Linked DNA regions of Homo sapiens. The protein of the gene in region 2 purifies or fractionates together with the protein of the main gene of each other region. This does not show direct contact. Each region holds a gene or a part of one and is shown on either strand. Other genes may lie near its edges. The genes, in order: LMAN2L, CLU, EDEM2 and HSP90B1.

Evidence for each region.
Region 1: the proteins of CLU (region 2) and LMAN2L purify together in Homo sapiens (co-immunoprecipitation; 3 studies listed by BioGRID and IntAct, with this or other methods). This does not show direct contact.
Region 3: the proteins of CLU (region 2) and EDEM2 purify together in Homo sapiens (affinity purification with mass spectrometry; 2 studies listed by BioGRID and IntAct, with this or other methods). This does not show direct contact.
Region 4: the proteins of CLU (region 2) and HSP90B1 purify together in Homo sapiens (affinity purification with mass spectrometry; 2 studies listed by BioGRID and IntAct, with this or other methods). This does not show direct contact.

What each region holds. Positions count from the first base shown.
Region 1 is NC_000002.12:96,705,387-96,709,070, reverse strand, and holds the end of LMAN2L (VIP36-like protein isoform 2 precursor), read left to right. Parts: intron 1-1,237; coding exon 1,238-1,357; intron 1,358-1,672; coding exon 1,673-1,815; 3' UTR 1,816-3,142; downstream 3,143-3,684. UniProt on the Homo sapiens protein: May be involved in the regulation of export from the endoplasmic reticulum of a subset of glycoproteins. May function as a regulator of ERGIC-53.
Region 2 is NC_000008.11:27,597,699-27,604,746, forward strand, and holds part of CLU (clusterin isoform 1 preproprotein), read right to left. Parts: intron 6,698-7,048; coding exon 6,593-6,697; intron 2,312-6,592; coding exon 2,082-2,311; intron 938-2,081; coding exon 762-937; intron 553-761; coding exon 543-552; 3' UTR 1-542.
Region 3 is NC_000020.11:35,130,314-35,137,361, reverse strand, and holds part of EDEM2 (ER degradation-enhancing alpha-mannosidase-like protein 2 isoform 1 precursor), read left to right. Parts: intron 1-2,412; coding exon 2,413-2,624; intron 2,625-5,578; coding exon 5,579-5,720; intron 5,721-7,048. Other genes in the region: MMP24-AS1-EDEM2 (ER degradation-enhancing alpha-mannosidase-like protein 2), read left to right, coding at 2,413-2,624, 5,579-5,720. UniProt on the Homo sapiens protein: Involved in the endoplasmic reticulum-associated degradation (ERAD) pathway that targets misfolded glycoproteins for degradation in an N-glycan-dependent manner.
Region 4 is NC_000012.12:103,933,410-103,940,409, reverse strand, and holds part of HSP90B1 (endoplasmin precursor), read right to left. Parts: intron 6,455-7,000; coding exon 6,123-6,454; intron 2,716-6,122; coding exon 2,604-2,715; intron 2,071-2,603; coding exon 1,951-2,070; intron 902-1,950; coding exon 785-901; intron 1-784.

The DNA.
Region 1 (3,684 bases), on a different chromosome or scaffold from region 2:
TGGTGGTGCATGCCTGTAATCCCAGCTACTTGGGAGGCTGAGGCAGGGGAATTGCTTGAACCTGGGAGGCAGAGGTTGCAGTGAGCCGAGATCGTGCCATTGCACTCCAGCCTGGGCAACAAGAGCAAAACTCTGTCTCAAAAAAAAAAAAAAAAAAAAAAAGTCTAACTTCAGTGCATTGCAACACATCAGATATGGTTAAATGTAGGAGTTTATAATGATACTTTAAAGAGAGAAATCTAGTCCCTAATTGCTTGATCTTCTCTCTGGTAATTATTAGGGAGATTAAGAGTCACAAGTACAAGAAGCCACAGAGAAACAGGCATAGTCTAGAAGGGCAGTGTATCCCATGCCCATAGCTGTGCCCTGCCCATGGCCCATTAAACAGCGGCCATGAGACCTTTTCCTGTTGTACGTGTGTGTGTGTGCACGTGTGTGGTCTTCACCAGCGGGGAAGCTGCAGTCCTACTTTGTCTGTTCTTACTGTGCTGGAAGGTTTAACATATGGGATTTAATTGTGGTTTTATCTCCAAATTTTTTAATTATACAGATGCGTCTTGACATACAATGGCGTTATGTCCCAATAAACTCATTGTAGGTTGTAGATATTGTAAGTTGAAAATGCATTCAATACACCTACCCTACTGAACATCATAGCTTAGCCTAGTCTACCTTAAATGTGCTTAGAACATTTACATTAGCCTACAGTTGGGCAAAATCATCTAACACAAAGCCTATTCTGTAACAAAGTGTTGAATGTCTGATGTAACGTATGGAATACAGTACACGATGCAGTACTGGTTGTTTACCCTTGTGATTGTGTGGCTCACTGGGAGCTACAGCTCACTGCTGCTGCCCAGCCTCAGTACAGAGTGTTGTACTACACATCGCTAGCCTGGGAAAAGATCAAAACTCAAATTTTGAAGTATGGTTTCTGCTAAGCGCAGATTACTTTCACACCATCATAAAGTTGGAAAATTGTAAGTCGAACCATTTTAAGTCAGCGATCTTCTATACAGGTAATGCATGCTTGTTGATAAAAACTTAAATACAGAAGATATAGAATATGCCTTGTTCCCCATCCTTATTTTTAGTTGCAAAATGGAGAGGTTTCAATTATTTTTTCAAGGTCACTGCTGGTTAGCTGTGGATCAGAGGCTTGAACTAAGATACTGACTTCAAGAAACATACCTCTTTTTCAAGTGGCACAAGTCATCCTTCTTCCATTTTTCTTCAGATAATCATGATGTCATTTCCTTGAAGTTGTTTGAACTGACAGTGGAGAGAACCCCAGAAGAGGAAAAGCTCCATCGAGATGTGTTCTTGCCCTCAGTGGACAATATGAAGCTGCCTGAGAGTGAGCACAGGGGCCCGCGGGAAATGGTCCCATAGTTGGGGAGGAGCTTGCAGTGCTGTACCCATAGCTCACAGGGCGGTCTCTGCTCTGTGTTCTTCTTCTGAAGGGTAGGGAGCACTTTCATCTGCCTTTCCCCTTCAAGTTACAGATGAGCAGCAGGAGGGCCGCTTTGTTTCTCAGTTGGAAAGAGGGGGTCTAAGCTCTGGCTTCCCAGAAGTAGGTGTCAGAAACTGGGGGCCGGACAGCCTATAGTTTGATCCTTCCCTATTGGGTGGGCTCCCTGTTTTCTGACTTGCTTCTCTCTTGCTTCCTCAGTGACAGCTCCACTGCCGCCCCTGAGTGGCCTGGCCCTCTTCCTCATCGTCTTTTTCTCCCTGGTGTTTTCTGTATTTGCCATAGTCATTGGTATCATACTCTACAACAAATGGCAGGAACAGAGCCGAAAGCGCTTCTACTGAGCCCTCCTGCTGCCACCACTTTTGTGACTGTCACCCATGAGGTATGGAAGGAGCAGGCACTGGCCTGAGCATGCAGCCTGGAGAGTGTTCTTGTCTCTAGCAGCTGGTTGGGGACTATATTCTGTCACTGGAGTTTTGAATGCAGGGACCCCGCATTCCCATGGTTGTGCATGGGGACATCTAACTCTGGTCTGGGAAGCCACCCACCCCAGGGCAATGCTGCTGTGATGTGCCTTTCCCTGCAGTCCTTCCATGTGGGAGCAGAGGTGTGAAGAGAATTTACGTGGTTGTGATGCCAAAATCACAGAACAGAATTTCATAGCCCAGGCTGCCGTGTTGTTTGACTCAGAAGGCCCTTCTACTTCAGTTTTGAATCCACAAAGAATTAAAAACTGGTAACACCACAGGCTTTCTGACCATCCATTCGTTGGGTTTTGCATTTGACCCAACCCTCTGCCTACCTGAGGAGCTTTCTTTGGAAACCAGGATGGAAACTTCTTCCCTGCCTTACCTTCCTTTCACTCCATTCATTGTCCTCTCTGTGTGCAACCTGAGCTGGGAAAGGCATTTGGATGCCTCTCTGTTGGGGCCTGGGGCTGCAGAACACACCTGCGTTTCACTGGCCTTCATTAGGTGGCCCTAGGGAGATGGCTTTCTGCTTTGGATCACTGTTCCCTAGCATGGGTCTTGGGTCTATTGGCATGTCCATGGCCTTCCCAATCAAGTCTCTTCAGGCCCTCAGTGAAGTTTGGCTAAAGGTTGGTGTAAAAATCAAGAGAAGCCTGGAAGACATCATGGATGCCATGGATTAGCTGTGCAACTGACCAGCTCCAGGTTTGATCAAACCAAAAGCAACATTTGTCATGTGGTCTGACCATGTGGAGATGTTTCTGGACTTGCTAGAGCCTGCTTAGCTGCATGTTTTGTAGTTACGATTTTTGGAATCCCACTTTGAGTGCTGAAAGTGTAAGGAAGCTTTCTTCTTACACCTTGGGCTTGGATATTGCCCAGAGAAGAAATTTGGCTTTTTTTTTCTTAATGGACAAGAGACAGTTGCTGTTCTCATGTTCCAAGTCTGAGAGCAACAGACCCTCATCATCTGTGCCTGGAAGAGTTCACTGTCATTGAGCAGCACAGCCTGAGTGCTGGCCTCTGTCAACCCTTATTCCACTGCCTTATTTGACAAGGGGTTACATGCTGCTCACCTTACTGCCCTGGGATTAAATCAGTTACAGGCCAGAGTCTCCTTGGAGGGCCTGGAACTCTGAGTCCTCCTATGAACCTCTGTAGCCTAAATGAAATTCTTAAAATCACCGATGGAACCAAACATGAGCTTCTGACTGTGTTCTTTCTTCTAGGAGTGGGTTTGGGGAAAGTTCAGGCCTTTATTCTGAGCAGGCCTTTTTTTTGAGCTTCAAGCCCATCAACCGTTGTTTTGCCTTCTCCTGGGTTGGAAAAGCCCTCAGCTCAGCTCAGAAGGAAAGGGGGTCACCTTGGCTAGGCAGAGGTCTCTGTCTCTTCAGGCTTTCTTTCCTTCCCATGCACTTAAACAGCACAGGCTATAGTGCTCTCCTGCAGGTGGGATTCAGGTGGAGGCATCTTCCTCCCACCTCCCCTCCACAATAGTAGAATGGCTCCAGGGTGCCAGAGGACAAACTGACCTAGAGCTTGGCCTTGGAGCAGGGAGAACTGAAAAAGAAAATGGTGGTTTTGTCTTTTTTGAGTTGAAGGGGAGATTGTATGGACCCGTGGGAGGACCTAGGTGGGCTCTTGAGATGGCCAAGGCAGCAGTGCAGGTGGAAGGGGTCTCATCAGAGGGGAGGGGCAGAGTGAGAGAGATGGAACCTGTAGGGTTTGTATGATTCCAGC
Region 2 (7,048 bases):
CGACAGTTTTATAATAGAACAGAAAAGCTTCCATTTGCAGCAATATATTTTAGTTGGCTTGTTGAAACACATCTCTCTTCCTGAAAGCAAGCAATTCTTGAAGTGGATCAACCTTGTCATCATATCCCTTTTATTCTTCACCCTTTTATTCTTCACTGGTATGACAGTCCCTATACCATCTTAGCCACTGCTTTTTTGTTTCTACTTATTTTCCATCCCCCCTGCCTGCCCCCCATAGCAAAATGAAGGCATGCCGGGAAGCAGCAACTCAACATAAAAAGAGGACCCTCCAAGCGATCAGCTCACAAGACAGTTTTATTGAATTAGTTGCATGCAGGAGCAATTCTGTTCTTCCCATGAGCAGCAGAGTCGAGTGTTAGAGTGCAGGATCCAGAGCGGGGAGAGGCTGGGCGGAGTTGGGGGCCTGGAGGCTGGGGCCTGGTTACTTGGTGACGTGCAGAGCTCTCTCTGGGGGGCTGCAGCTCATCTTGGGGGGAGCTGGACTCAGATGCCCCCGTAGGTGCAAAAGCAACATCCACATCTCACTCCTCCCTGAAATAAAAAACAGTTATCCTCCAAAGTAAAACATCCTCCAAAGGAAAAATAAAATTCCCCCGTAACTTCCTGGCTTTGTTCTTGGGCTCTGGCTCCGGGCGGAGTCGTTCCCACCAGGCTATAGAGTCTGCACTTTGTTTGTTTTTTTGTGGCTCCCAGAGACTCACTGGGCCCTGCAGGCCCGCAGGAAAGGCCCGCCTGCTTACCGGTGCTTTTTGCGGTATTCCTGCAGCGCTTTCTCCGCCACGGTCTCCATAAATTTAGGGTTCTTCCTGGAGACTTCTACAGGGACCGTCACAGTGATGGGATCAGAGTCAAAGAGCTTCACGACCACCTCAGTGACACCGGAAGGAACGTCCGAGTCAGAAGTGTGGGAAGCCACCTAAATGGAACAAGAGAAAAGGGAAGAGCTGAAACACTGTGGTCAAAATGCATGCGCTCTGCAACAGAAGTCAGGCTTCTGATAAGGAAGTCCTCCTGCTTCTCCAAGGAAACCTAGAGAGCTGACCCCATGCTTCTTATACATCTAGACGTAAGTACAGCTCAGTGGACAGAACGGACCTGGTTCACAGACACTCATGTGTTGGGGCAAATGTCATCTGCAAATGACCAGCCCAGGGAGCACCCCAAAGAATAAAAGTGGTTTCCAAACATTTGCTTTAGAAGCAGCCCTTGGTCAGAGTAGGGTAGAAAAGGAATCCAGAGGGCCTGGAGGGAAGAAAGAAAAGAAAAAGAAGAGTTCCCAGTACTAGAAATAAGTTTTATTTGATTTTTTAACTTTATTTTATTATTTTATATATATATATTTTTTAAGAGACAGAGTCTCACTCTGTCACCCAGGCTGGAGTGCAGTGGCGTGATCACAGCTCACTGCAGCCTCCACTTCAGGGCTCAGGCAATCCTCCCACCTCAGCCTCCTGAATAGCTGGGACTACAAGTGTGTGCCACCACACCTGACTGATTTTTGTATTTTTTGTAGAGAGGGAATCTTGCTGTGTTGCCCAGGCTGGTCTCAAATTCCTGGCCTCAAGCAATCCTCTTGCCTCTGCCTCCCAAAGTGCTGGGATTACAGGCATGAGCCACCATGTCTGGCCTAGAGAGAAGTTTTTATCACTGGCAGAGAGTGATGTACTAATTCATAAGCCATTTTACATGCCAGAGGGCAGCCTTGTAGCTTTGAGAAAAGAACAGAGGCTTCTGGTTTATTCACAGATTTGTGCACCAAAACAAAAACAACAACAACAAAATACAGGCTTGGCAGCCAGGCAGTCAGGTTCAAATACCCGTCCAAGTCATCTGTCAGCTATCACACCTTGGCCAAGCTGTGGAACCTCTCTTACTTTGCTCCTTTGTAAAGCAGGGTTATATTTTCCCTGAGTGGGTGATGAGGCTTCAAGGCAACAGGGGCGCCTAAAGTTTTCTATTTTCTGCCGTGTGATAAATGCTCAGTCAAAAGCACACATGCCCCTGCTCCCGATCACAGCTCGGGCTCCCGAGCCACAGCATGTGGCCGGGACACAGCTCACCGTGGTGACCCGCAGATAGTACTGGTCTTCGCCTTGCGTGAGGTTTGCCAGCCGGGACACCCAGTTAAACTGCTCGTTCAGCTGCTCCAGCAAGGAGGAGGTGTTGAGCATCTTCCACTGGTAGGACTTTAGCAGCTCGTTGTATTTCCTGGTCAACCTCTCAGCGACCTGGAGGGATTCGTCGAGCTCCCGCCGCAGCTTAGCCTGGGAGGGGTTGTTGGTGGAACAGTCTGCCCAGAGATGGAAGAAACGCAAGTGAGAAGTGTGAAGGGAAGGCTACAAAGGGATAGAACCATGAATGAATGGAAGTTAGCACATGCAGCGGGAACAAAAGCAGTGCTTCCCTAAGGGAAGGGCCACAAACTGGAATTGTCCACGACAAAATAAAGGTTTTGCCTCAGAATGTGAATCTAGACACTGCTTCCGTCATCCAGAAAGTCTTTTGGGTTTTTTGTTTTTGTTTTTGTTTTTTTGAGACAGAGTTTTGCTCTGTTGCCTAGGCTGGAATACAGTGGTGAGATCTCGGCTCACTGCAGCCTTGACTTCCCAGGCTCAGGCTGTCCTCCAACCTCAGCCTCCTGAGTAGCTGGGACTATAGGCACATGCTACCATGCCCAGCTAATTTTTGTATTTTTTGTAGACACGGGGTTTCTCTGTGTTGTCCAGGCTGGTCTCGAACTCCTGGGCTCAACCCATCTGCCCAAAAAGTGCTGGGATTACTGGTGTGAGCCACCACGCCCAGCCTGAGAAGCCTTGCTCTGGAAAAATACGCCAACTGACCTAAACAGTGTGCTTCGTAACATCATTGATTTATCTTTGGGTGCCAGACCCTTATCTCTTTGGTGACAAACTGTGTTGACCACACTTCCAAAAGCACTGATCTCAAGTTCTCCATGTTCTCAGACCTGGAGTGGCTCTCGTTGCCCTAGTCCCTCCCGGGAATCATTTCCAGAGAGGAGGAATATTACTCACAGCTGCCATTCGTGTGGCACTGCCTTCGTCCCAGACACCGCAGAAAGTTCTCTCTGGATATCCTTTTTCTCTAAGAATTGGATCTGTTCTGACTTAAGGATTAGGACTTAAGTCCTAATTTTACCAATAATGAAATAATTTTTACCAATAATGAAACTGAGGCCCACAGAAGTATCAATAAATAGCTTACCTAAAGCCATAGAATAAATGATCTCTGGGCCCGGGATTGAACCAGGGTCTTCAGCTCCTAAGCTTGGGCTTTTCCTACCCTGGATCTGTGGTTCTGGACAATCCTCCAAGCTTGTCTTTTTTTTGAGACAGAATTTCGCTCTTGTTTCCCAGGCTGGAGTGCAATGGCGCGAGCTCAGCTCACTGCAACCTCCACCTCCCGGGTTCAAGCAATTCTCCTGCCTCAGCCTCCAGAGTAGTTGGGATTACAGGTGCCTGCCACCACCCCCGGGTGATTTTTTTGTATTTTTAGGAGAGACAGGGTTTCACCATGTTGGCTAGGCTGGTCTCAAACTCCTGACCTCAGGGGTCCACCCACCTCGGCCTCTCAAGGTGCTGGGATTACAGGTGTGAGCCAATGCACCCGGTCCAAACTTGTCTTTTGAGCATGTCTGTAGAGGTGGCAGTTCTGGTGCCAGGAGTTCATGCAGCTGATGCACTGGCACCTGGTGGCCAGGGGTCCTTGCCTGCCCACCTGCCCGCCCATGGCTGGTCAGTGAGTTCATCAAGAGAGCAGGGAAAAGAGAATTCATTCCTCTTGGCCCTGGGCTGCAGGTTGTCAGATTCATTAAGACCTGGAAACTGTCCACTAGCTCTTAAAACTACTGTTTTTCTCCCCCTAAGGTATTTCAAAAATATCCAGAGGCAGGTACATCAAACGTGAGTCAGGGGAAGGGAGATTTTGCATATGCTTTAGGATGATGACTGCAATCATTTATAGTAAACAAAATGTTAGGTGGGGAAAGAAACAGAATTACTAACAAGATGCCAGTTTGAAAATAAATATGTAATAAATAAACTTCATTATTTTACCAAAAAAAAATTTAAAAATAAGAAAAACTAGCTCACACCTGTAATCCCAGCACTTTGGGAGGCTGAGGCAGGCTGATCACTTGAGGTCAAGAGTTTGAGACCAGCCTGGCCAATATGGTGAAACCCTGTCTCTACTAAAAATATAAAAATTAGCCAGGCGTGGCGGTGCACGCCTGTAATCCCAGCTACTCAGGAGGCTGGGGCAGGAGAATCGCTTGAACCCAGGAAGCAGAGGTTGCAGTGAGCAAAGATTGCGCCACTACGCTCCAGCCTGGGTGATAGAGCGAGACCCTGTCTTAAAAAAATAATAATAAAATAAGAAAAATCCTTGAGAGCTGAGGCTTAGTCTAGAATAGAGGTTCTCTACTGGGGTGACGCTGTCACCCAGGGAGATTTAGCAAGTTCTGAAGCTGGTTGTCACAACAAAGGGAAGGGAGCTGCTGACCTCTAGTGGGCAGAGGCCAGGAATGCTGCCAAACACCCTGAACTGCTCAGGACAGCCCCCAACGACAAAGAATGACCTGGTCCAAAATGTCAGCACTGCTCACACCTGTAATCCCAGCACTCTGGGAGGCTGAGGTAGGAGGATCACTTGAGCCCAGGAGTTAGAGACCAGCTTGGGCAATGTAGCAAGACCCCATCTCTACTAAAAATAAAAAAATTAGCCAAGCATGGTGGAGCACACCTGTAGTCTGTTACTCAGGAGGCTGAGGCAGGAGGATGACTTCAGCCCAAGAGGTCTAGGCTGCAGTGAGCTGTAATGGTGCCACTGCACTCCAGGCTGGGTGATAGAGAGAGACCCTGTCTCAAAAAAAAAAAAAAAAATCAACAGCGCTGAAATTGAGAAATCCTCATCTAGAGTTCCCAGGCAGTACGTGCTTATATGGTTGCAAGCACCTTAAATAACAGTAGGCAGTCCTCTTCAGTGTAGACTATTTAGCTCAGCTTAGAGAATTATTCTTACCAATAATTCTCTAAGAATCTATCTCAGGTCAGGCACAGTGGCTCACACCTGTAATCCCAGAACTTTGGGAGGCCGAGGCGGGCAGATTACTTGAGGTCAGGAGTTCAAGACCAGCCTGGCCAACATAGTGAAATGCTGTCTCTACTAAAAATACAAAAATTAGCTGGGTGTGGTGGTGCACACCTGCACTCCCAGCTACTTGGGAGGCTGAGGCAGGAGAATCACTTGAACCCAGGAGGCGGAGGTCGCAGTGAGCCGAGATAGAGCCACTGTACGCCAGCTATAATCAATGACTGATAAGACTGGCGCTGGCTGCACTCTCAACTGTAATCAATGACTGTTAAGATTGGCGCCAGACCTGAGCCCAGCCTGGGCAACAGAGTAAAAATCAGCATAAGAGGTCCAATCTGGGCACAGGCATCTGGACATCTTTTCTCAGACCCTAACATGACTTTCTTGTGGTGAGGTACCATGTAATTGATGCCACTCTATGATATTTTTTATAGAAAAAGCCCCAAGGCCTGGTTGTGCACTCATCTACAGCAACTTATACTTCAGCCTGTTAAAGCACAACTGTTTATTTTGCAGTGGCTTCTAAAATTATAGGAGTGAGGCTAGGAATGTTTAACTAGACCCTGGCGGCCTGCCATGGCAAACTCAAACTAAGCATTAAGTAAGAGCAAAGCCACCAGATCGATAAGCTGTTGACAAGGGGAAACAATTAACTCTTTGTGAGTATGAACTGCTGTGTACCAGGAACTAGTCCAAATACTGTCACAGCTGTTATCTCTAAGTGGAAAGAAGTTAACCCATAACCAGAGCTGGTGAAACGGAGGGGGACAGTTAAAGGGAAATATTCCCTTTGCCTAGGGGACCAACCAACCGACCAAAGGGACTATTGCTTGGATGCCCAGGTACTGAGACCCGTGACTTCTGTGGCCAGAGGCTGCGAGGGGCCCCAGGAGAGAACACAGCGCCCTAGGATTGAAGCCCAGCTCGCCCATGTCGGGGTCAATCTTGGATAAGTTATTAACCTTTCTGTGGCTCAGTTTCCTCAGAGGGTCATTCTGAGGAAATGAGGAAATGTATGTCGAGTGTTTAGAACAGTGCCTGGCCTCTGGTCAGTTTTGTTAAACAAAACACATACTGTCTGCAATGTCATAATCTGCAGAGGAAAATGAAGATGCCTACTGCGCTTGGCGCTTGGGAACAGAATCACCGGGGAGTCCCAGGGGGATGACTTTTTTCAACAAGCTTTTTTCAACATGGGGCCGACCAGGTGGAGGGCACTTTTGCATCTCTAACGACATCTCACCGACTTCAGGGACAGCCTCGCATCATCATCTCATTCTAAGATGAGGAACCGAAGCTGCATGAGGCTCAGGACCTGCCCCGGGACACAGCTCAAAGGCTGCAGAGCTGGAATCCAAACGCTTATCTGTCTGACTCCATAAAGGCAGCACCAGTGAGGCCCCAGTGACCCCAGGACACAAGGGATCAGGGGGGACGGCTTGTGGTCTGGACCCCGACTCACCCACAGACAAGATCTCCCGGCACTTGTCACACTGGTCCTTCATCCGCAGGCAGCCCGTGGAGTTGTGGCGGATCTCCCGGCACACAGTCCGGTCATCGTCGCCTTCTGGGGACACACGAGGGAAGAAGAGTCAGTCATCCAGCCATGCAGAGATGGACTCCACTGATTCCTATTGTTATTTTTATTTATTTTTTAATTTACAGACAGGGTCTCACTCTGTTGCCCAGGCTGGAATGCAATGGTGCAATCATAGCTCACTGCAGCCTCCAACTTCCAGGCTCAGGTGACTCTCTTGCCTCAGCCTCCCGAGTAGCTGAGACTACAGGTGTGCACCACCACACCCGGCTAATTTTTTAAGTTTTTATTTTTGTAGAGACAGGGTCTCACTATCTTGGCCAGGCTGGTCTCAAACTCCTGGCCTCAAATGATCCTCCCGCCTTGGCCTCTCAAAGTGCT
Region 3 (7,048 bases), on a different chromosome or scaffold from region 2:
CTGTAACCACCGCCTCCTGGGTTCAAGCAATTCTTTTGCTTCAGCCTCTTGAGTAGCTGGGATTACAGGCGCCTGCCACCATGCCCAGCTAATTTTTGTATTTTTTAGTAGAGATGAAGTTTCGCCACGTTGATCAGGCTGGTCTCAAACTCTTGACCTCAAGTGATCTGGCTGCCTCGGCCTCCCAAAGTGCTGGGATTACAGGCATGAGCCACTGTGTCTGGCCTCTCTCCACAGTTTGGTTTCCCCATCTATCAAATGAGAATCATAATTTCTACTTCCCTACCACATCGGGTTTTGGAGAGGCTAAAATGAGGTCAGGAAGGAGAAACTGCTTAGAGAACGTCCAACACTTTTAAAACGAGAGGGATTTGTTTTGTGGCTAAGCTGTGTCCAGGGCTGCAGGTCAAGCCTCCATGTTTTTGTCTAGTGGGGCAGTAACACCAGGCTCAGTAGCATCAACTGTACACTGTGTTCCCTTCAGGGTGTGGTGGAGGCTCTGAGGACTGTTCACACCCAGACACGTCACACTGTGCTTTCCATCACCTCTTGGCCATCTCACTTATTTATCCCTTTTCTTTCTTAATTTTTTTTTTTTTTTTTTTTTCAGACAGGGTCTTGCTCTGTCGCCCAGGCTGGAGTGCAGTGGCGTGATCATGGCTCACTGCAGCCTCTCGAACTTCTGGGCTCAGTTGATTCTCCCACCTCAGCCTCCTGAGTAGCTGGGATTACAGGCAGATGCCACCATGCATGGCTAAATTTTTTTTTGTAGAGATGGGGTTTCACCATGTTGCCCAGGCTGGTCTTGAACTCCCGGGATCAAGTGATCCATCTGCCTTGGACTCCCAAAGTGTTGGGATTACAGGCGTGAGCCACCACACCCGGCCTCTTTATCCTTCTCACATAGCACTTGCCTCTCCTTTGGGGGAGAGCTGAGGATAGCGGGTGAGCTAGGTTCAGGTCTCACTCATGGCTCATGGCTCATGGCTTGAGCGTCTCCTTGCAGACATTGTGTCCTGTGTGATTCATCCCTGGAGGAAACTCTGGAAACTCTGCCTAGCTGCTCCTCCTTTATAATTTAATTATTTTTGGTCATTGGTCATTTTATAAAAAAAGGTCAAGAAACAGGATTTTGTCACTCCTCTTCTTTTTATTACAGCCTGACTTTTTCTGAAATATTGCTTAGAGCCCTTCCTGGTTGTGACTTGCTCTCCCGCTGGTGCCTGCCAGATTGCAAGTTTCTTGTCTGTGGCAGACACAGTTGCTAGACCCTGTGGTTCTTGGAAGTGTCGACACCTTTGTTCACAGTTTGGTGACGCATAGGCTGCTCTGGAGTTGTTTGACCTTTAGGCCCAGAGAGGAAATCTCTGCCTCTGGCTGGTTGTCCAGTTCTCGTCTTGAACCAGAAGGCACTTGGGTGCCACTTGGGTGGGGCGGGCAGAGAACTGGACTGGGGCTGGGGTGGGCACAGGGGAGGCGTTCCCATCCCAGCTCTGTTTGACTCTCTCTGTGTGACCTGTGGCTGAATTACTTCTTTACAGGCATGGTTTTCCCTACCTATAAATCGAGGGTCATACTATATCCGTGGTTTAGTGGTTTATATCCTATTTTGCTTCCCTTTAAAAATAATTTAGCCCCTATACTCTTTATTTAAAGCAGAGATCTTTATTTAAAGTCTATGAATGGCTTTGTTTATTATTATTATTATTTTGAGACAGGGTCTCGCTCTGTCACCCAGGCTGGAGTGCAGTGGTGCAATCTCAGCTCACTGCAGCCCACGCCTCTTGGGTTCAAACGATTCTCGTGCCTCAGTCTCCCAGATAGCCAGAATTACAGGCGTGCACCACCACGCTTGCCTAATTTTTGTATTTTTAGTAGAAATAGGGTTTCACCATGTTGGCCAGGCTGGTCTCGAACTCCTGGCCTCAAGTGATCTGCCTGCCTTGGCCACCCAGAGTGCTGGGATTATAGGCGTGAGCCAAAAGTCTATGAATGGCTTTGAACGGGGCTTACTCTTGTCATTGTGCCACAAGCCCCACCACTTTCTGTGGCTTAAACCCTGCCTGCATCACAATAAGTTACCTGCCTGGGCTTTGAAGGCGTAGTGTAAAATAAATAAAAATAGGTAAAGCTCTCTAGCTAAAGCGAGTGTGTGTGGAGCACAGCCTGCTCCCTGCCCCCTCATGATGAGCAGGAACCCAAGGTTATGCAGAGCAGTGTTTGACAGCATCTGGGCTGGGTGGCTGCTCAGGGCCCTCCAGTTATGACATTTATCTTTCTCTGGCTCAGACTCTAGCAGGATACCCAGGAGAAAGAGGGAAGTGCTGGCTAAGGTCCCAGGCTTTGGGCGTGTATCAGAACTATCCCTATCCCCCTGCTCCTGTCCGGGATCATAATTTGTCGATTGTTCAGCCTTTCAGACCCCCACTGGCATGCCATATGGAACAGTGAACTTACTTCATGGCGTGAACCCAGGAGAGACCCCTGTCACCTGTACGGCAGGGATTGGGACCTTCATTGTTGAATTTGCCACCCTGAGCAGCCTCACTGGTGACCCGGTGTTCGAAGATGTGGCCAGAGTGGCTTTGATGCGCCTCTGGGAGAGCCGGTCAGATATCGGGCTGGTAGGTTCGCTGCTGCCCTTCCTGTTTGAGTCCCTGCTTACGAGGCCCAGGGCTCTGAGCAATAAGTTGCAGTCAAGCCAAGGAAAACTTAGGGTGACCTTGGGAGTGGTCCAGGATTTGGGCTCAGGACACCAAAAATAGACCAAGCCTCCAATTCAAGTTTGGCTTGGAGTGGGGAGGAGAGTGGGAAAGCACGTTTCTGGCAGGCAGCAGGGGCTGCATTCAGCTTTGACCAGTTGAGATTCTCTGATTTCTAGGAAGAGGGTCGTATGTTTCATGCCCCTGACTCACTTGACGGCTTCAGATCATCAGCTCGTCCGGCCTTCATTTTTAGCGTCTATCTGTATTTGCTGTGTTTCTTAGGACACCGGTTCTGAGAGATACTGAGTGGCAGTTGCATGAAAAAATGAGTCTTGGCCAATTAAGTTAGGGGAATATTAGATATAATATCCCCCCCTTTTTTGGAGAGTCAGAATGCACATGAGCAGAATAAAAATCCTCTAGTAAAGAAATCTATTCAACTTTGTTTAATTTAACATTTCCCAAACTTATTTAACACCAGAGCTTCCCTTTATCTTCCAGTACTATTAACCCATGGAAATTGAACACACTTTGGACCAGATGATCTCTAAGGTCAGTTTCAGCTTCTAAATGGGATAATCAATAAGATTAACAGTAATTGAGCCAAAGCCATCCAGGACATAACACTGGATTTAGTCAGAACTGGATTCAAGCCCTGGCCTTGCTACATCGAAACTGTGTGACCCTGAGCAAGTCACTCAACCTCTCTGGTCCTCAGTTACTTCAGCAGTAACGTTAATATATTAATACCAACTTTGCTGAGTCACTCTGACTTAGGAAGACTGCATTTAGGTCTAGGCACATTTTATGCAGTCTGGTGCTAATCCAGCTTGAAAAGTAAAGCTTGTGTGAGGACTCCCCGAAAATCCCTTAAGAAGGTGCCCCCCTAAGGCTGGGTGCGGTGGCTCACGCCTGTAATTCCAGCACTTTGGGAGACTGAGGCGGGCGGATCACCTGAGATTGGGAGTTCGAGACCAGCCTGACCAACATGGAGAAACCCCATCTCTACTAAAAAATACAAAATTAGCCGGGCGTGGTGGTGCATGCCTGTAATCCCAGCTACTTGGGAGGCTGAGGCAGGAGAATTGCCTGAACCTGGGAGGTGGAGGTTGGGATGAGCCGAGATCGCGCCATTGCATTCCAGCCTGGGCAACAAGAGCGAAACTCCATCTCAAAAAAAAAAAAAAGGTGCCCCGCTGGAGACCTGTAGTAAATCCCTTAGTCCATCTCAGGCAGGTTTTGCTCCAGCAGTGGGACCGTAGTAGACTCTGTTGGTGCCATGCCCATATCCTCTCAACTCTTAACATTTCCATGCACACTGGCCAGTCTTCCAACTGCCATCACCTGCGCCTCTTTGCCTGTGGGTCTCCTCTGGTGCCTGGAGCCACTCTGCTTGCCTTTGGCTGAGGGTACCAGGATTTAATGCTACCCATGAGTAGCTCTCAAGCCGGTAACTGATACTGATGGGAGTTGGTGGATAAACATTCCAGTTCCCTGCCCCTTGGGTGGGATCACTCCGAAGCTGGAGCTCTACACTGAATTCCTAAGCTCCCCAGCAAGATTGAACTCCAGTTCCCATGGTGGAAACCTGCCTGATGGCATACCCCTTAAATGCCGCCTCCCTTGCCCTGCCTCACTTCCCCCTCCTCTACTGGTGTTTACAAGGACTTACCTTCCAAATCAACTACTTTCAGGCAGAATGAGGTTGTGCTCCTGGGGGGACACAAACCAACGCGGAACAGTTAGCTATTTCTTTGAGTACCAGATGAAGTTACCAGCTTCCATGAGGGTCTAAGCCATATGAAAAATACATATATTTGGCTGGGCGCAGTGGCTCACGCCTGTAATCCCAGCACTTTGGGAGGCCAAGGCAGGCGTATCACCTGAGGTCGGGAGTTCGAGACCAGCCTGACCAACAGGGAGAAACCATGTCTCTACTAAAAATACAAAAAATAAAATAAATACAATAAAATAGAAAAATACGTATCTTTGTTTATTTTTTTGAGACAGAGTCTCCCCCTGTCGCCCAGGCTGGAGTGCAGTGGCACGATCTCGGCTCACTGCAACCTCCCCCTCTTGGGTTCAAGTGATTCTCATGCCTCTGCCTCCTGAGTAGCTGGGATTATAGGCACACACCACCATGCCTGGCTAATTTTTGTGTTTTTATTAGAGACAGGGTTTTACCATGTTGGCCAAGTTGGTCTCGGACTTCTGACCTCCAGTGATTTTGCCCCCCTCAGCCTCCCAACGTGCTGGGATTATAGGCATGAGCCACCGCGCCTGGCCGGCATTGCCAATTTTTCACAGTCTCTACAGAGACTGAACAATTAAAAAAAAAAAAGTCAAAGGATACAAAAAAGGGTACTCAGTGACATTGGTGAAGTCCCCTTTTGCCCCTGTCTCCAGCTATTCGGTTTCTCTCCTTAGAACCACTCTGTCAGCTTCTTGGTGGATGTTCTTATTGAGTTAATTTATGGAAATACGTAAAGCACGTCTGTGTCTTCAGATAGTGGAATCACATGCTGGGTGCTGAGAAATCAGACAGATTGCGGCAACAGCAAATTCTCATCTCCCATCTCACACTCACTCTAGGCAGGACATAAACACTCCAAATCATTTTTCTTTTTCATTTTTTGCTCAATGTGTATAATTAAGTCCTCATAAATGTGCATGAGATGCATCTCTACTATGCAGATGTACAGGAAGGCTGGCCATGATCCAGCATTGCCCTTCCCTCTCAGGGTCTGCATGTTTCCCAAGAAGCACTGGGGCACCTGCCCTGCATCTCCCTGGGCAGTCAGGGTTGGGGGTGAGTAGATCCTTCTTTGGCCATCGGCCTTCCCGTTGGGACCGTGTGTCTTTCTCTCTCTCAGGTCGGCAACCACATTGATGTGCTCACTGGCAAGTGGGTGGCCCAGGACGCAGGCATCGGGGCTGGCGTGGACTCCTACTTTGAGTACTTGGTGAAAGGAGCCATCCTGCTTCAGGATAAGAAGCTCATGGCCATGTTCCTAGGTAAAAATGGCAGAGTAAGGGAGCTTTTCCCCTCATTTTTCTTGCTGATGTGTGATTTGTTTAAAAACTTTTTTTTGAGACAGAGTCTTGCTCCATCTCCCAGGCTGGAGTGCAGTGGCACAATCTAGGCTCACTGCAACCTCTGCCTCCCAGGTTCAAGTGATTCTCATGCCTCAGCCTCCTGAGTAGCTGGGCATGTGATGGTGTGGACTACAGGCGCACACCATCACATCCAGCTAATTTTTGTATTTTTAGTAGAAACGGGGTTTCACCATGTTGGCCAGGCTGGTCTCAAACTCCGGACCTCAGGTGATCTGCCCGCCTTGGCCTCCCAAAGTGTTGGGATCACAGGTGTGAGCCACCACGCCTGGCCTGAGTGCCTGCAGAATCAGTTCTGAATTCAGAGTCACTATGGACTTACACTGCCCACTTCATGCCCACTACAGCACTTGATGCCTTCTTGCAAAAGCCAACTGAAGCGTGCTGCATTCTGTGTATGTAGCCCTGGATTTCTTATCTCCTGGCCATTGCACATGGCATCTTCTTTGCCTAGAATGTCTTTTTTCCTGTCTTCCTATGTCCAAATTCTTTTCACCCTTCAAAGCCTAACTTAAATGTCGCCTTGCCCAGGAAGTAGCTTGATCCTTCTACAGAATTTGGGACCTTCAGCATCTTTCTTGCAGTTAGCTCTCATCAACAGTTACAGCTCTACAAATTGAATGCAGAATCCATGCCTTACTCATCTTATGTTCCCCACAGTGCTTTACATGTGGTAGGTAATAGATTAATACCTGTTGAATAAATACATCTTACCCGCCAGGCCCTTAGACACTAGCAATCTTGAGGAATTGTTGAGCACCTAATTACTATTATTATTATAGCTACAGTAGTCCCCCGTTATCCACAGTTTTGATTTCCATGGTTTCAGTTATCCATGGTCAACTGCAGTCTGAAAATAGGTGAGTACAGTCAGATACGATATTTTGAGGCTGGGTGCAGTGGCTCACGCCTGTAGTCCCAGTTTTTTGGAAGTGAGGATTGTTTGAGGCCAGGAGTTTGAGACCAGCCTGGGCAATATAGTAAGACCCCCTCTCTAAAAAAACAAAGATATTTTGAGGCACTAAATTTACATAATTTCTTTTTTTCCTGTCTCTTACCAAAAAGACAAATTCACATAACTTCTATAACATATATTGTTATACTTGTTCTGCTTTATTATTAGTTATTGTTGTTAATCTCTTCCCATGCCTAATTTATAAATTAAACTTTTTCGGCTAGGCACAGTGGCTCATGCCTTTAATCCCAGTGCTTTGGGAAGCTGAGGCGAG
Region 4 (7,000 bases), on a different chromosome or scaffold from region 2:
AACTTTATCAATGCTAGTTTTGCATCCTTAAGAGTTACAAGAAGGGATCAATAAAAGAAGAAGAAAAAAAAAAACAGGCAAGGAAACATAAATTTAGTAATTATTCCCAGGCATAGGATCTCACAATAAGTGTTTGATGTCATAAGCAAGCTCTTTAAAGATTATATTAAAAGCCACTTAACAACATGATTTCATGTTTTACGGGTTTTGTGGTGGAAATCACACATCTACCTATGTAGGTGGTTCTTAATCTTTTTTTGTCACACAAAACCCTTGGCAAGCTGGTGAAGGCTACAGATGCCTTCTCAAAATAATTTTTTTAAAAAAATCACATATTACAAAATACACAGGAATAAAAAGGAAACCAATTGTGTTTAAACAGCCATAAAACTGTTTCAAACATTCTTGATTTTGTAGTTTCACTATTCACTAAGAGCTAGGACTAATTTTAATAACTGCTGCAATTTTGAAGTAGTGATGAGTATAATAATTCAACTTAAGTAAAAATGGTGTGTTCTGGAAACCAATTACTCTCAAAGACCATCTCTACTGAGGTGTCAATCTCAAAGGTTCATAAATGTGATTTTAATTGTGACTAGGTCAATAAACCAGAAGTAGACATATTATAGTTGGCCTAAAGGTCTTTTTTTGAATTTTCTCACTGGGAAAAAATGGGAATGGACCATCTCATATTCATGGTCACATACCATATACAATTAAACTAAGAGGGTGATATTTTGTCTATTCATTAATAACCAGAAACTAGGGAATTATAAATATTTACCTTTGAAAATGATTTGTAGAAAGCTTTGTATTCATCTTCTTCTACTTCTTTTGATGGTCTCTGCCATATTGGTTTGATATCATTCATAAGTTCCCAGTCCCAGACAGTTTTTTCAACCTGAAGTTATTATAGTATTTGATTAGTCTCTCTCAGCACTCACCAAGGTTATCCTAGCAGTAACCATGGCTTCAGTAGATTTCAAAAGACTATGTAAAGACCCAGAGGACTGGTGTGGTGGCTCACGCCTGTAATCCTAGCACTTTGGGAGGTTAGGGTAGGAGAACTGTTTGAGCCTAGGAGTTCAAGACCAGTCCAGGCAACATAGCAAGACCTCCAACTATACAAAAAATTTTTAAAACTTAGCCAGTCATGGTGGCGTGTGTCTGTGGTCCTAGCTACTTGGGAGGCTGAGGTGAAAGGACTGCTTAAGCCTAGGAGTTCAAGGATGAAGGGAGCTATGATCGTGCTACCACACTCCAGCCTGGGTGGCAGAGACTCTGTCTCCAAATTAAAGAAAAAAAAAAAAAGGGCACCAAAGGATACCTGTTATCTAGTAAGGTTTCTGCCAACTGTATCAAAAGCAAAGTATTTTTCTCAATATTTAATTCAAAAAGACAATTGTTAACTGATGAAAAGCCACTTAAGTTTTTCTTCATTGTTATTTTTTAACTAGCAAAAATGTTTCTTGAAAATATTTGTTTTGAGGTTAGAAGGAAATACATATTATATATTCCCATTTCATGACTTAAAGAAATCCAACATTTTACAAAAATATTTCTCAACCACCATGATCAATACTTCTTAGTCTGCTACCTAAGCAAGCCAGAGAACCATTTTTATGGTTAATCTCTGCATGATAAAAAGACAAAAGAGGACTCAGAAGGCTTTTTAAGATTTTAAAATTCCAAACATATAAGCCACCAGTCCTAGGCAATATATAAAAGTTAGAAAACTCTTCATAAAAATGACCTGGGTTTGATACTTAAAACTTTCTACAGGACAATGTATTCAACATACAAACAAAGGCCTTATTTTAAAAGCTGGCTCCATGGACTTAGCACCTGAACTGAAGCTGACTTCAAATCAGCCAGTGCATACTTAGGTTTTCCTGGTTTTGCCTATACATGTTAAACAATATCTTATGCAGGGAGATAAACCAGACTTACTTTTTTAGTCTTTGGTTTCTTTTCTTCTTCTTCTTCCTCTACTGCAGCTTCATCATCAGATTCTTCTTTCTCTTCTTTGGCTGCTTCTTCTTCCTCCATGGGCTCCTCAACAGTTTCAGTCTGTTGAAATAAGAGAATTATGGTTAAACTCATTTGTTTAACAATTCTGATTTTGTCTACAGAATATGATATAACATTACAGGTCAAAAAATAGGTTTTTGTAAGAAAACCCTGAGAGTATCCTTAACTAATAGACCACATTTTGCCTTCATTCTTTTTTTTTTTTTTTGAGACAGAGTCTTGCTTTGTCACCTAGGCTGGAGTGCAGTGGGGCGATCTTGGCTCACTGCAACCTCCGTCTCCCGGGTTCAAGCAATTCTCCTGCTTCAGCCTCCCGAGTAGCTGGGATTACAGGCGTGTGCTACCACACACCCAGCTAACATTTTTGTATTTTTAGTAGAGACAGGGTTTCGCCATGTTGGCCAGGCTGGTCTCGAACTCCTGACCTCAGGTGATCCACCTGTCTCGGCCTCCCAAAGTGCGGGGATTACAAGCATGAGCCACCGCGCCGGCCTGCCTTCATTCTTTTAGTGTTGAATATTTAAATACGTGCCAAGGTAATACATATAAGTTTTTAATCAATATAGATTTACCTTGCTGCTCCATACATAAATAGGAAAGTTTATGAACTGTGAATATTTTTTGACGAGATTTTTAATTGTATCCAATTCAAGGTAATCAGATGCTTCTTCTTTTAAGACAAGGCTGCAAGAAAAATTCGATGTTTAGAGACACCTAACATTTAGAAGATCTGATTATAAATTCATTTAAATACCATGGTAATAGCCAGCAGTTCAGTATAATCCAAGATGTCCTAATTATTCATGTTAACTCTCCATCACCAACAAGGGTTTGTGAGCTAAAATGTAACACATGTAGATACAGTAAAGAGAAGAATCTCCTCTACATTACCTCAAGTGGAGAATAACCTTAGTTTTAAGTAGAAAATTAAAATATTCCCAACCGTCTGAATAGATTGTTTTCATTTTTCAAGGTGAGAAAGCACTGAAATATTCTGGAGAGAAATGGAATCATGCACTCTCATAGCTCTTACTGTTATTCCAGAAACCTAATGATTATTGTAGATAACTATTCCTAATTAATGAAAACATTTTCCTTAAAAAAGCTAGAAAATTAATCTGGTTTATATTTATATCTGCACTATCCAAAATGGCAGCCACTGGGCACATGTGACTTATTTAAATAAAATGTACAGTTCAGTTCCAGTTATGCTGCCACATTCCAAGTACTCAACAGTCACATGTGGCTGGTGATCGCCAAAATGGAAAAGTGCAGATATAGAACATTTCTACTATTATATAAAATTCTACCGGGCAGTGCGGGGATTACAGGTGTGAGCCACTGTGCCCGGCCTAGAACCTACTCTTAAGCACAGTAGGTAGTCCATATCTTGATACTTGTGTTCCCAATTAAGTATGGGAAATGGTCTATCTATGGTTCCCTCCCTGTCTCAAAAGGCTCATTAGTTTAGTGGTACCTGGCCAATAAGTAGCCATGATATGACAAAGCCTAGTGAGTGACTAGGCCCCTGGTCTCAGAGCACATGTTCTAGTGATTTGGGGATTAAGAGTTCAGTTTTGGATGCAAGTAGAAGCTGCTGGTTAGATATCTTAGGTAGAAGCATTTAAAAGGCAATTAAACACATGAACACAGAGCCCAGTAGTGAGACCTAGACAAGGGGCTGGCAAGCTATAGCTGTACAGCTGGCACCCATTAGAAATTTTATTGGGACACTTTTTTTTTTTTTTTTTTTTTTGGACCTCTGTCACCCAGGCGTGATGATGGCTCACTGCAGCCTTGACCTGCCAGGCTCAAGCAATCCTCCTACCTCAGCCTCCTGAGTAGCTGGGACTACAGGCATGCACCACTGTGCCAAGCTAATTTTTTATTTTTTATTTTTGTGGAGATGGGATCCCATTATGTTGTCCAGGCTGACCTCAAACTCCTGGGTTCAAGTGATCCTCCCACCTCAGCCTCCCGAGGTGCTGGGATTATAGGGATGAGCCACCACACTTGGCTGGGACACATCCTTATGTATTGTCTATGCCTGCTTTCAAGCTAAACAGAGTTGGGACATGTGACAGACCATATAGCTCACAAGCTAAAAATATTTACTAGCTGGCTCTTTCTTTCTTGTTGTTTTCTTTTATCTTTTTTTCTACTAGCTGGCTCTTTTAAGAAAAAGTTTGCTAACTCCTGATCTAGGCTAAGAATATAAATTTGAGAACTAGAGATGGAACCTGAGGCCGTGGCAGTGGATAAGACTACATAAAGATCACATGGACAATGAGAAAAGGGCTGAAACTTAACTTGGAGAAAATGTATGTTAACATTTAAGAAGTGGGCAAAGGAAATTTTTAAAAAGATATGCATGGTCATGGAAACTAGGTCCTGGATAGGTGTTAGCAGCCATCGTTCCCTGCATGGAACTGTCCTGTTTAACCTCACTTATTCATACAAATGGCTGCCAATTAAGTGTTAAGCTTTGGGAATGGAGCTTCCAACAAAATGTTTGCCTTCATGGAGCTTATATCCAGATAATTTCACCTGCTTCTTAGCAACCTGACATTAACATCTCTTGGGACATCACTTTCTATCTTTCCTTGGGAATGATTGCCCTATCCTTCTCCAACATCTAGCCCAGTGCTTAAAAAGAGAGGGCACTGGGGCATAACTCTTAGTGATGCCTCCAAATGAAACCTGGAGACATCAATGTTAGTGACGAAGGCAGGGGAAGGTAAATTGGGAACACAAGTTAAAAAAGTACTAAAATGCAGTCATCTAATTAGTCTTCATTAAAAGAACATCTGCTGCAGTAAAAACAGGAAATGTTACTTTCTAGGATGAAGAAAGTTGGTCACAATGATAAGTATGTGCTTCTTTCCCTTAATGTTAAGAAAACTTAAAACTGAATTAAGAAAAAAAAATTGAAGCTGTGGGCACATTCTGTTACTCACTTAGCAGGAGTTGGCAAGCCAACTGACCTCTGAAATAGAATTTCCTCATCTCCAAGATGGTAAAATTTTAAAAAGGCAAAAAGCTGCCCTGTCTACGTCACAGTGCTATAAGCAACGAGAGCTACTGTAGGGCACTGGCTCTGTCTCACCCATACAAACAACAGTTACTGGCTTAAGAGGGATCTTAATTCAAATTTAAAAACTTGTAACTATCCTTAAATGACGTATTTTATTCCACAGCTTTCACAACTTTCATGAACTTTCTTTAAGCCCTTTATCTCTACAAGCCAGCCCCAGCCCTGGTTGCTACCACTCATCTTGAATATTTTCAAGAGGAATATTTCCCCCAAAGAGTCTCCCCTTGTCCACTCCTCACATCCTCCACACCACCTTGAGAATCTTAAAAAGTTCATCACATTCTGGCTGGGCACGGTAGCTCATGCTTGTAATCCCAGCACTTTGGGAGGCCGAGGTGGGTGGATCACGTGAGGTCGGGAGTTCGAGACCAGCCTGGCCAACATGGAGACACCCCATCTCTACTAAAAATACAAAATTAGCTGGGCGTGGTGGCACATGCCTGTAATCCCAGCTACTTGGGAGGCTGAGGCAGGAGAATTGCTTGAACCCAGGAAGCGGAGGTTGTGGTGAGCCAAGATTGTGCCATTGCACTCCAGCCTGGGCAACAAGAGTGAGACTCCGTCTCAAAATAAATAAATAAATAAAAGTTCATCACATTCTATCCATAACTGCCACCGAAAAGAACTCTGTTCATCTAGTGAGCATGCTATGCCTCCATGCCTTTATTCAGGATGCTCCACAGACAAATTACTCTTCTAACCTGGGAAACTGACCAAGCAGTGCCTCCTCTGTGGGTACCCAAGAAGCCTTCTCCCTTGGGGAAGCTGCTGCTATTTCCTACTTTATACCCTCCATGTACAACAGCAATCACAAACCTTTGTGCCTGGCCCTTTGCAGGTCCTCAAACATTTCTTCAAGTGACAACAGTTCTGTTTCCTCATTTTATAAGGCAGGAAAATTAAGGCCCAGAATAAGTCATTTGCTCAGAGAATAGAACTGGAGAGTCAAGATCCTCACCATGACTATTAATTCTTATAAGGAATTGGTCATACTCACGTAATTGTCGTTCCCCGTCCTAGAGTGTTTCCTCTTGGGTCAGCAATTACAGAAAATTCATTGGAGTCAGACTCCCAGATGTGCTGGGTATCGTTGTTGTGTTTTGAAGTGACAATAACCTTATCTGCTACAAGGAAGGCGGAATAGAAACCGACACCAAACTGGCCAATCAATTCAGAAGTTGACTGGCCATCTTCCTGTGCTTCAGTCATTTTGTTTAAAAACTCGCTTGTCCCAGATTTGGCTATGGTACCAAGGTTTTTAACCAACTCTTCTCTGGTCATTCCTACACCGGTGTCTGTGACATGCAGCAGGTTCTTCTCCTTATCACACTAAATGCAAGACAAGAACCAGATAGTTGTATTTAATATTTACATTATGCCAAACAAATATTGAGGAACTAACCAGCTTTGGGTCCCATCAATTCCAATACAGAAAACTAAACTGAGATATTTTCCTCCACATAGTTTTTTATGGCCTTTTCTGAAAGTGTACATCTTAAAGTAATTTATGTATTTGAGAAAGTATTAATATCAAATGGGCAGACTGGCCTAAATGTCAAAGGTTAGAGGCTGACCTAAATAAAACAAGTTACCTTTGAAGGAAAACAATTCAAGAAAAATAAAATTTTATGTCTTGCCTATTTCTTTACTAGAATACAAAACAACTTGAATGATTCCTCTATTTGGAATCTGTGATGGATCATTAATATTCTTCACTCAATATTCCTGGCTGTCTGCCTTCCAGAAACTTAGGAGTACTCTACTTTCCATTTAAGAATGGCTAAGGCCATGTGACTAGTTTTGGCCAATGAGTTATAAATGGCCAATGAGTTGTAAAGGAGAGCTCTGTTTTCAGGCTGAGCCTTTAATTATAAT